2 separate regions of the Homo sapiens genome follow, and region 2 is linked to region 1. Evidence: fine-mapped expression QTL. Tissue or cell type: blood mononuclear cells. Region 1 holds a variant in brackets; the other region holds the start of a gene. All regions are shown on one strand. Distances are from middle to middle. Region 1 holds the start of LOC124901128 (a long non-coding RNA gene). Region 2 holds the start of TENM2-AS1 (TENM2 antisense RNA 1).

What was found. PIP is the estimated chance that this variant, and not a neighbour inherited with it, causes the effect. A credible set is the group of variants that fine-mapping cannot tell apart.
Region 2: it holds the start of TENM2-AS1, and the variant in region 1 is the best candidate, but not a certain one, in a credible set for the expression of TENM2-AS1 in blood mononuclear cells (TOPMed, PIP 0.57).

What each region holds. Positions count from the first base shown.
Region 1 is chr5:168,226,167-168,229,079 of GRCh38, forward strand. It overlaps TENM2 (teneurin transmembrane protein 2), which reads left to right. Exons shown (of 31, transcript NM_001395460.1): 26 at 1-97; 27 at 1,729-1,964. LOC124901128 (a long non-coding RNA gene) reads right to left here and starts at 1,733. Exons shown (of 2, transcript XR_007059038.1): 1 at 1,568-1,733; 2 at 444-1,299. RefSeq lists an enhancer at 2,186-2,275. The variant T/A (reference allele first, on the strand shown) is at 1,444.
Region 2 is chr5:168,231,111-168,234,023 of GRCh38, forward strand. It overlaps TENM2-AS1 (TENM2 antisense RNA 1), which reads right to left and starts at 1,262. Exons shown (of 3, transcript NR_109894.1): 1 at 1,194-1,262. All of the region lies in intron 27 of TENM2 (teneurin transmembrane protein 2), which reads left to right.

The sequences.
Region 1 (2,913 bases):
TCTATTACCATTGACATTGAGAACTCCAACCGTGATGATGACGTCACTGTCATCACCAACCTCTCTTCAGTAGAGGCCTCCTACACAGTGGTACAAGGTGAGCCTCCACCCATACCATCCTACCCCCAAACTCACCCATAGACCCAGAACCCAGCCAAGCCCAACATGTGAGTTATGCAGCCTGGGAGGACTTCCAGAGACCCAGCGTACCCCTAGCTTTCTATTTTATTCAAGTGTCCACAGCAAACTATAAGAGGTCAATCTTGTAGAAAATGACTTAATCAGATAGAACAGAATGTCATCTACACCCAGCCAAATGTCTAGATATTTGAACTGTCTACATAGTTATCTGAAAATGTCCATTTCCACCCGCCCCCCACATACTCTCTCCCTACCTCTTACCCTTCCATCACCACCTCTCCCCACCAACCCAAAACACATAGTTATCTTCTCAAAGGCCATTTATTCTCCTGGCTCACCACTAGACTTCATATTTTCTTGTTCCATCCTGATTCTCTCTTTTAAGCATTTGTTTGATGAGTTGGTTGCCCTGGGACTGGAGCTCTTTAACATTCTCTCTCCAAGACTGGGATCTCAAAGGTCTCTGCCCACCCTGTGGTTATTGTTGCTACTAGACATGTTTTGCAGTCCAGGGCAAGCACTGGGGCTGGCAAGAAAATGAATTGTGCCGATTAATTTTTCTTTTAATTAAGATATAATGTCGGTGGGCTAGCCCGTTGTCAGAGGATAAAAGTGTCCTCTCAGTAGATAAATGGTGACATTTCTGGACTATTATCCCACAGCGGAGCCTGTTTCAATGACTCTATTTCTGCTCTGCCAAATGATTAATGATGTAGATTCTGTCCTTCTGCGTGTGACGGCTGGAGTCACAGGAGCGACAGGTACACACTTGCTCACTGCCCCAAAAGCTGACATCTCAGAGGCCAGCCCAGGCCAGCTCCTTTGCCCAGACAGTCAGGAAGCAGTGTATCTGTAAAAGGAGTCTCTGACTCACATTTCCTTCCCGTAACTTTTCGGTAAAGGAAAAGGTCAGACGTCTGATTGACTCGTGTAGTTTCCACTGGGGAAGATAAACACATTATCAGCACCCACCCACTGACTCCAGCTCCCTGATGTATTTGAGTCTCTTCAGAGTTCTCTTGAGTGGGGGTGGTATCAGGTGCAGTCGGCAGTAAAAGCATGAGGATGGGGAAGGTTGACTTCTTCTCTCCATTTTCTCAAAGAAAGAATCCTGGGCTTTGATTTGTAGTGGATCTGGCCTGTGGCTAGACCAGCAACCTTGGGTTAGACGGCAGGCAAAAGGAGGAAAACTGAAGTCATTTGCCTTTCTTTTTTTTTTTTTTTTTCCTGGTATAAGCTAAAATATATATGTTAAGCTTCGGGAATTTGATTGACACAAATTGTGTAGGCAATAGACATCTT[T/A]AAATGTTTAAACGTGCTATTAATAGTCTTCAGTGAGTAAAAGAAACATCACGGCATAATTATTTCTGGAGTGCCACATATTATGTTTTTCTTTACGTGGATCAGTAGTATCTCTGCTACTTACCTTCACATGGTATGTATGTGTGCTAATTGAAGGCAGCCTTCGACTAATGGCTGCAAAGTACCATGGAAACCTATTAAAAAAAAATAGGGGTTCTATTCTCTTCTGACTAATAGAGCGGATAATTTATTTCCCTATCCCCACCCCCACTTACATTTTTCCAGATCAAGTTCGGAACAGCTACCAGCTCTGTAATAATGGTACCCTGAGGGTGATGTATGCTAATGGGATGGGTATCAGCTTCCACAGCGAGCCCCATGTCCTAGCGGGCACCATCACCCCCACCATTGGACGCTGCAACATCTCCCTGCCTATGGAGAATGGCTTAAACTCCATTGAGTGGCGCCTAAGAAAGGAACAGATTAAAGGCAAAGTCACCATCTTTGGCAGGAAGCTCCGGGTAAGTGGTTCCACCCAATCTGTTACCACAGAGTGGGAGGGGATATACACTTTCCTCACAGAGCTGAGAAAGTTTCTCTGTTACCACAGAGTGGGAGGGGATATACACTTTCCTCACAGAGCTGAGAAAGTTTCCCAGCTTCAAAGCCTCTAATACCCCTTTATTCCCTGGAAAAGGCAAACTCTCCACTCAGAAGGTAGAATCCATCTCCCTTTGGGACTCATACCTTGGGAAAAACGTTCTCCATTTCCATTTCCTAGGACTGAAAAAGGCGGCCATTTCCTGCTATGGGGATTTACATTACGCTGTAACTAGAGACAGCTTTGGTCTTCTTTTCACACTTGCTGTCTTCTTCTTCCTCAGTTTTCACTGTCTGGCCAGTTCAACCAATGAATTGGTGTTCGTGCCTACTATGTGCTGAGTAATTTGCTAAGTGCTGGAAGAACAAAACTTTTAAAGTATGTTCTTTGCACTCAAGGAATTGAGGGTCTGATAAAATATGCAGACACAGGATGATCACAGGTTAAGTGAAAAGACAGAGGTACATGCAGGGTCTGATGGGATCCCAGAGGGATGCCACTCAGCCTGAGAGGTTCAGGGAAGATTTCCCAAGAGGAAGTAACAACTGAACCTCAGTGGGGAGTTTTAGCCAACCCTCGTTTTCCCAGACCAGGCAACTTGCCCCACGTGACATCTTTTTAAAACCAATATATAACATTAATTATATTATTATTATAATTATTATATAATGTAATTTTATATTACATTTTTATATTATAATGTAAACCCTATATTATATTATAATGTATAATTATATACATTATATGTATACATAATATACATATACGTATACATAATATACATATATAATACATTATATGTATACATAATAATATACATTACATTATATATAATTACATATATAATTAATGTATAATTATATGTATAA
Region 2 (2,913 bases), 4.9 kb after region 1:
GGATACGGCAGGCCTCACTTCCACCCACCCTGGTGAGAACACTATCAGGGAACCTCAACTGAACCACAGGGAAGCCTGGAAAATGTTGTCTTTTCTGAGTGCCTAAGAAGAAGAAGATGAACAAAGACTTGGTAAGCACGTAGCAGAGTGATCAGGTCTCCCGTTTGACAAGAGATCAGGAAGGGCTTCACAGAGGAGCTGGAATCATTTCTGTAGAGTAGTAAGAATCAGCCAGGCAGAGATAGGGAACAGAGGTGACAGGACAAAGAATGTCGCCAGTGGAAAGGCCAAGAGGCCAAAAAGGGAATGGCATTTCAGAAAACTAATTCAGTGTGGCAGTGGATGTGTTAGAGAGTAGGGTAGAAAAAGAAGATGCAGCCAGAGACTGCACATGGAAAAGAACATGGTGCCAGGCTAACATTTATCCTGAGGGCAATGGTGAGCCCTACCTGGACTTCATTAGCAGAGTGATGTGCTGGGATGTGTGGCATTAGAAAGCTCTCTCCAGCCTGGGCACAGTGGCTCATGCTTGTTTTCCCAACACTTTGGGAGGCCAAAGTGGGAGGATCATTTTCGCCTAGGGGTTCAAGACAAGACCAGCCTAGGCAATATAGCAAAACCGCAATATAGCAAAACCCTGTCTCTACAACAACAAACAACAACAACAACCAAAAAAAAAAAAAAAGTTTAAATAGCCGACCATGGCCTGGCACAGTAGCTCATGCCTATAATCCTAGCACTTTGGGAGGCCAAGGCAGGAGGATCCCTTGAGCCCAGGAGTTGGAGACCAGCCTGGGCAACATAGGGAGACCCTGTCATGGTGGCACATGCCTGTAGTCCCAGCTATTCGGGAGGCCAAGGCAGGAGGACTGCTTGAGCACAGGAGTTTGAGGCTGCAGTGAGTTCTGATCATGCCCTGTACTCCAGCCTGGGCAACAGAGCAAGACCCTGTCTCAAGAAAAGGAAAGAAAAGATCTCTCTGACTTCCTCAGGTATGGAGGAAGACAGATGAGAAGGGGACAAGATAGATGATAGGAGGAGAGGGACAGTAAGGAGGGTGCTGCATTAGTCCAAACAAGAAACTAAATCACTAGCAGCGAGGAAAGAAAGAAGGTAGGGGGAGAGATTTGAGAGATGTCTAGCACACGAGGACGAGGATTGGGCAACTAGCAGGGTTGCTGTGTCATGCTCACCTTTTGACAGGCTCTCCCCATGATCATGTAAACTGGGAAGGCTGGGTGGCCGTCCACGCTTTGTGGGCTCTGTAAAAGAGAGTGGCTGGGAGCTGAAACCCAAGCCAGAGATGTAAGATTCTGGTGGCCCCAGCCCTGCCTCTTGGAATGGAGAAGAAACTAAATGAACTTTGAAATGCAGCCACTTAACCAGCTCCATGTAATCACTGCTCCCCATGTGGAGAGCAGGGATTTGGAGAGAATGTGTGGGTATCATGCATGAAGCAAATAGCCTGAACGTCCCCGGGACTGGCAAGCTCCTGGGAGCCTGGTCAGCTGAGGGGTGTGAGGGCCCAAGGCTCTGAACATTCCTGGAGTTTAGAGAAGACCAACAATCTCAGTGAAGCCATCACAATAGAACAGTGCCCAGTGAAATTCCAACCCACCTAGGTACCCTTTCTTCCCACAATCCTCCAGACGGAGGCATCTCTTAGTGGAGGAAAGTATCAGTGGCTCTTCCTTACAGCCTGGGGAAATGTAAGATGATGGCGGATGGATAGACCGGGACCACATCCTTTCACCAAAAGCTTTGTAATGGAGTGTTAGTCCCTTCATTCCTGCCCAAACTCAGTGCAGGGAAGATTTTCATTATGCCTCCCAAGAACTCCTCAAAGAATCTCCTTTGAAAGAGTCCTCCCCCTCCTTCCCGCATTGTCCTCCATTCCTTTCTTCACTCACTCTGGCCTTGCAAAAACATGAAGCAGGCCGGGCGTGGTGTCTCACGCCTGTAATCCCAGCACTTTGGGAGGCCGAGGCGGGTGGATCACGAGGTCAGGAGATCAAGACCCTCCTGAACAAAATGGTGAAACCCCATCTCTACTAAAAATACAAAAATCAGCTGGGTGTGGTGGCGCATGCCTGTAATCCCAGCTACTCAGGAGGCTGAGGCAGGAGAATCGCTTGAACCAGGGAGTCGGAGGTTGCAGGGAGCCAAGATCGTGCCACTGCACTCCAGTCTGGCAGCAGAGTGAGACTCCCATCTCAAAAAAAAAAGAAGCAGTTACATCATGGCATCTGTGAGCTCCATAAGTGCAGGGACCAGGTCGCCCCTGTATCCCTGGTGACAAGTGCCATGTGGTGGGTACTCAGACAACAGGTGACAAAGAAAGATGTAATAACTGTGCCTTCTATAGGCGCCTTCTTAATGTGTAAATGCTCCCCCACCACAGTGGGTATAAATTCACAAATACATTGCCCCTACATCTGTCTGGAATCCTTCCACTGCAAGAGACAGGAAGTGCATTCAGACTAACTTAGAAGAGTAGGCGCTGTCTTACCTAACAGGGCCACCACAAGGGAGAAGCTGGCCTCAGAGACTCTAAGATGTCATTAAATGGTGTACTAGTCTGTTTTCACGCTGCTGATAAAGACATACCCAAGACTGGGAAGAAAAAGAAGTTTAATTGGACTTACTTACAGTTCCACATGGCTGGGGAGGCCTCAGAATCATGGCGGGAGGCAAAAGGCACTTCTTACTTGACGGCATCAAGAGAAAATGAGGAAGAAGCAAAAGCGGAAACTCCTGATAAACCCATCAGATCTCGTGATACTTATTCACTATCACTAGAATAGCACGGGAAAGATCGGCCCCCAGGATTCAATTACCTCCCCCTGGGTCCCTCCCAACACATGGGAATTCTAGGAGATACAATTCAAATCAAGATTTGGGTGGGGACACAGC